2 separate regions of the Homo sapiens genome follow, and region 2 is linked to region 1. The links come from fine-mapping of genetic effects on gene expression. A gene starts in region 1. The other region holds a variant in brackets. All regions are shown on one strand. Distances are from middle to middle. Region 1 holds the start of NOSIP (nitric oxide synthase interacting protein). Region 2 has its middle 21 kb from the start of RCN3.

Region 1 (2,910 bases):
AACCAAAGTGGAGTGGAAGGGGGAACAGTTCTAAATTAAGAGAGATGTAAAAGACGATAGCAATTACTTAACTATATCCTGATTCCAACAAACCCACAGTTACACTGGACTTGACTCTGCACCACGTAATGGATAGTAGTCTAGAATTACGGTTGTTCTTTTAAAGTGTGATGATGGTATTGTGGTCATATCAGCAATGTTTCTGGTTTTTACACACGCACCCTGTTAGATAAAATTTATAGAAGGTCATTGGTTTGGATTGAGCTCCTGCACTAGGTTCAACAGACCAAACCAAAATGGAGACACTCATGCTAAAGTTCCATGCTTCCAAGCCAAAACTAAGTTGATATCTGATCTTCTGAGATATCAGGAGAGAGATAATAGCCAAATCCCCAAACAACCCAGTTTTAGCCCACCTGATAAAGGAAGTCCCCTCTACTTTAACCTTTAACTTAGAAATTTAATCAAGTTAATCAATTTAATCAACTAGCTTTTTGTTTTCCGTTTCTGATTTTCTCAGCCCTTTGTCTCTGAAAACAACCTCTGCTCAGCTCATCGGAACACTCACGCTATTTTCCATAATTAGATGTTGTTTGATTGTAGATTCACGAATAAATGCCAATTAAGATCTTCTCACTAAATGTGTTGCAATTTTGTCTTTTGACAATCCTTAAGTGTCATGATGCCTACGATTTGTTTTAATCTCTTTAAGTTTAAAAAAATACAGCAAGTATGGCAAAAATAATCATTGGTGATTTGGGTGACAGGAATTCCTGTATTCTTCTCTCACTTTTATATAAGTTTGAACATTTTCGTAAGAAAACATTAACATCAAACTGCCTCAAGGACCGTTCAAGCCCCAAGTTCACAGAATTAGCAGCACAATCAGAATGGGAATCCATGACTGCCTGACCCCGAAGCTCCACACAAGAAAACGTGAATCCCTGCACCAACCCCGAAAGGGAAGGGGCTGTCAAAAAGGTGAAGAGAAGGTGGCGATGGATGACTGCACAATCTAGTATCGCCCGCCGTCCCACCACAGTCTGAGAAACTGAGGCCAGGAAAGGAGTTCTCCCTCCTCAACTCCCACTCCTTAGACCCCCAGCAATCCCAGTCCACTCCTTCCCTTGGGACCACCAGCAAATAGCCATCATCTACAGCAGAACTGTAACTCTCAGGAGAACTGGCCGATGCTAGCTACCACTTGACTGAGTTTATAGTGAGAGAGAGAGACAAAGAGAGAGAGAACTGCCCGATGGACGGTTGGCCACCTCCAGCAGAGTGTAGTTCAGCTTCAAACTTGGGGCGCCCGGACAGCTGTATTAATAATGATTGACAGGGAATCGGGAATCCAAAATCTTGCCCCAGTCTCCCTCAAGACCCCAGGCCTCTAGCCCGCAGGAAAGCGATCCCAGCAACACTCTTCCTGCACCGCCTCGAACTCACCTCACTAACGACTCCCAGTCCCTCGGTCGCTTCTTCAACTGTGCCCCGACACCGGAAAGGAGCACTATTTTCCCCCTCCGCTCCGCCCACTTCCGCCCAGCAGAAGGCACCGGAAGTAGAGCTGCCCCTAGTTGCGGAAGTGCCTCGCCTGGCTTGCTCAAGTCCTCTCTTCTCTTTCTCTCTCCGGAAACGTGAGTAGCTAATCGAAAGTTCCGGATATTGAAACTGGTGGGAATATGGGGAACGCTTACTATGTACGAGGCATTTCCCAGGGAGATCGTTTTTTCCTGCTTGGTTCCCAGGTTTTGAGTCTCTCCAAGCCCAAATTTAAGGACTAATCACTTCCCCTAGAGATCGGGAAGCCCACTTTCCCAAATATATCATCCACTTTTCTTGCTGCATCTTAAAACAATTGAGAAGAGACAACTACGCTCCCATTTTACAGACAGAGCCATTGGGAAATTGAAAATCAAAGCCGTTCAAGTCGCTCTCAGGAAACAGGGATTTACTGCGGCACTGCCCAGCTGTCCCAGGGACTAAGGCATATCGTTCCCGCTAGTTTCTAGATACCTAGAGACCTAGATATTAATTTTTCTAGCTCGGACAGACGAACTCCCAGGGGAGAGCCAGAGCGGGTAGGGGTCGGGAGGGAGGAGGAGGGTCGAATCTAATCCCCCAGGTATCCCATGGTATTCGACACCTTGGCTTCCTCATGGAGCTCTGGCCTTTAAGTCCTTTATCCCAAGGTCCCTTTAAATACTTTGTCCCTTACCTGAGTCCCGCCCAGGGCAGGTAATGGCAAGTTCCGCCCACCTGCCAGAAACGGGGATCAGGCCTGGTTACCGGGAGTGGGGCGCCCCTCCTCCTTATCCCCTCCCCTCTTCCCTGTCCCCTTTCACAGCTGGCTGTAGCTGGCCAAGGAGTTCTCGATTAAAGAGGAAGGGGCAGTGCTCACATTTCTGGGCAGGTAAGTGAATGTCCCTGGAGGAAGAGCCTGGCTTGGGGACCCAGGCATCCTGGCTCCCCGCCCCTCCGAGACCCAGAAGTTTGGGGCTCCTAGGCCCAGGAGTCCAGGGCCCCTGCCCACTTAGGTCCCTAGACCCAATAATATAACTAATCCCCTGCCTCTGCCTCTCTCGTAATCTTTGTTGTCTGTGGGTGGATGTGACAATGAGCACAGAAAGAGGCACAAGTGGAAATTACCAGGAAGGGAAGACTCCAGATCACCAGTGGACATGTTTATAAGCATCTGTGTCAGGTGCTGTAGACACAGTGGGGAAAGAAAGATAAGCTGCCTGCTCCTTGCTTTCTTCTCTGGCGGACACTGCCTTCACTGAAATCCTGGCTCTCACACTTGCACACTGTGTGACCTTCGGCAAGCTATATTACCTCTCTGTGCCTCAGTTTCCTGTTCTCTATACTGGGGATAATAATAGGACTCCTGGTCGGGCGCAGTGGCTCACA
Region 2 (2,910 bases), 31 kb before region 1:
TTCACTGTGTTAGCCAGGATGGTCTCGATCTCCTGACCTCGTGATCCGCCCCACCTCGGCCTCCCAAAGTGCTGGGATTAGAGGGGTGAGCCACCGCGCCCAGCCATTTTTTGTATTCTTAATAGAGACGGAGTTTCGCCATGTTGGCCAGGCTGGTCTCGAACTCCTGATCTCAGGTGATCCGGCTGCCTCGGCCTCCCAAGTGCTGAGATTACAGGCGTGAACCACCATGTCTTGCTAATTTTTGTATTTTTAGCAGAGAGGGGGTTTCACCATGTTGGTCAGGCTGGTCTTGAACTCCTGACCTCGAGATCTGCCCTCCTCAGCCCCCCAAAGTGCTGGGATTACAGGTGTCACCCACCGCTTCCGGCCGCGTTTTTTGGTTTGTTTGTTTTGTGTGTGTGTTTTTTGTTTTGTTTTGTTTTGTTTTTTGAGATGGAGTCTTGCTGTGTCGCCCAGGCTGGAGAGCAGCGGCTCAATCTCAGCTCACTGCAACTTCCGCCTCCTGGGTTCAAGAGATTCTCCTGCCTCAGTCTTCCTAGTAGTTGAGATTACTGGTGCCGGCCACCGTGGCTGGCTACTTTTTGCGTTTTTAGTAGAGACAGGGTTTCACCATGTTCGCCAGGCTGGTCTCGAACTCCTGACCTCAGGTGATCCACCCACCTCAGCCTCCCAAAGTGCTGGGATTACAAGTATGAGCCACCACGCCTGGCCCTGGCCTGCGTTTTTTAAGACATAATCTTGCTCTGCCACCTAGGCCAGAGTACTGTGGCACTCCAGTTGCAGAGAGCCAACATTGTGCCATTGCACTCCACTGATCTCAGCTCACTGATCTCAGCCAGCTGCAAGCGATTCTCGTGCTTCAGCCTCCCTAGTAGCTGGGATTACAGGCGTGTAACACCACGCCCAGCTAATTTTTGTATTTTTAATAGAGATGGAGTTTCACCATGTTGTCCAGGCTGGTCTCAAACTCCTAAGCTCAAGCAATCTTCCTACCCCAGTCCCACAAAGTGCTGAAATCATGGGCAGGAGCCACTGCGCCCAGCCATTCTAGCTCGTGTTTTGCTGAGCATCGTCGCATGTCTTTGGGGTACACACACAGGAGTGAGGTAGTGGAGCACCGGCTAGGCGCATTTTTAGCGTTAATCGATATTGCCAATTCATTTCCCCAGTTTACGTGCCCACCAGCGTTGTAGACAAGTTCCAGTTTCTCCACATCCTGACCAACGCTTATTAGAATAAACTTTTGAACTGTTTTTGCTTTTAGTTCTTCCGTTGGTGACCTCCCCACTTGCAGATCAGCAGATCAAATCCCCATGCTGTTGACAACACGCTGGGAGCAAAGAGCCAGGTGGAGCTTCTAA[C/G]GAAGTCAGATCTTCTGATATTTTAAAAGCTGAGATAAAATTCACAGGCCATAAAATTAACCCTTGGTCGGGCGTGGTGGCTACGCCTGTAATCCTAGCACTTCAGGAGGCCAAGGTGGGCAGATCACTTGAGGCCAGGAGTTCAAGACCAGCCTGGACAACATGACGAAACTCTATCTCTATTAAAAATACAAAAATTAGCCGGGCGTGGTGGCACATGCCTGTAATCCCAGCTACTCAGGAGGCTGGGACAAGAGAATCGATTGAACCCGGGAGGCGGAGGTTGCAGTGAGCCAAGATCGTGCCACTGCACTCCAGCCTGGGTGACAGAACCAGACTTTGTCTCAAAAAAAAAAAAAAAAAAAAAAAAAACCCACACCCCATCAGCAGTCACTATCCCCTCTCTCTCTGCACTCCCAGCCCCGGACAGCCACTAACTACTTTCTTTTGCTATGGATTTGCCTATTCTGGGCATCTCATTATAAATGCAATCGTACGTGTGACCTTTCGTGCTGGGCTTCTTTCAGCATGTTTTCCAGATCCATCCACACTGTAGCCCGTGTCAGGACGTCATTGCTTTTTTTTTTTTTTTTTTTTTTGAGATGGAGTCTCACTCTGTTGCCCAGGCTGGAGTGCAGTGGCGCGATCTCGGCTCACTGCAAGCTCCACTTCCCGGGTTCATGCCATTCTCCTGCCTCAGCCTGCCGAGTAGCTGGGACTACAGGTGCCCACCATCACACCCGGCTAATTTTTTGTATTTTTAGTAGAGATGGGGTTTCACCGTGTTAGCCAAGATGGTCTCGATCTCCTGACCTCATGATCTGCCCGTCTCGGCCTCCCGAAGTGCTGGGATTACAGGCATGAGCCACTGCGCCCGGCCCAACGTCATTCCTTTTTAGGGCTGAGTAATATTCCATGGCACGGGCTAGACCACATTTTGTCTCCACTCATCAGCTGACGGGCTTTTGGGTTGTTTCCACTTCTGGGCTATGGTGAATGGTGCTGTTAGGGTCATTCATGTGCATTTGTTTTGCCTCAGCCTCCCAAGTAGCTGGGATTAAAGGTGTCTGCCACCACGCCTGGCTAATTTTTGTATTTTTGGTAGAGATAGGGTTTCACCATGCTGGCCAGGCTGGTCTCGAACTCATGACCTCGTGATCCGCCCACCTCGGCCTCCCAGATCACGTACATATTTTTGTGTGGACCTGTTTTCAGTTTCTTGGGTAGATAACTAGGAGGGGAATTGTGAAGCTGATTTTTCCTTTTATACATGTCTCACTCTGTCACCCAGGCTGGAATACAGAGGTGGGATCACAGCTGGACCTCCTGGGCTCACACCATCTTCTGGCTTCGGTCTCCCATGCAGCTGGGACTACAGGTGGGCACCACCATGCCCAGCTAATGTATTCTTTTTTGTAGAGATGGGGTCTTGCTACAATGGCCAGGCTGGTCGCCAACTCCTGGGTTCAAGCAATCCTCCTGACTCGGCCTCCCAAAGTGTTGGGATTACAGGCGTGAACCACCTTGCTTGGGCTGATTTTTTTTT

What was found. PIP is the estimated chance that this variant, and not a neighbour inherited with it, causes the effect.
Region 2: its variant is fine-mapped to the expression of NOSIP in whole blood (INTERVAL, PIP above 0.99).

Annotation. Positions count from the first base shown.
Region 1 is chr19:49,579,069-49,581,978 of GRCh38, forward strand. It overlaps NOSIP (nitric oxide synthase interacting protein), which reads right to left and starts at 1,488. Exons shown (of 9, transcript NM_001270960.2): 1 at 1,447-1,488. PRRG2 (proline rich and Gla domain 2) reads left to right here and starts at 2,248. Exons shown (of 7, transcript NM_000951.3): 1 at 2,248-2,413.
Region 2 is chr19:49,547,926-49,550,835 of GRCh38, forward strand. No RefSeq gene overlaps it. Among named protein-coding and RNA genes, the nearest start is that of RCN3, 21 kb to the left of the region's middle. The variant C/G (reference allele first, on the strand shown) is at 1,365.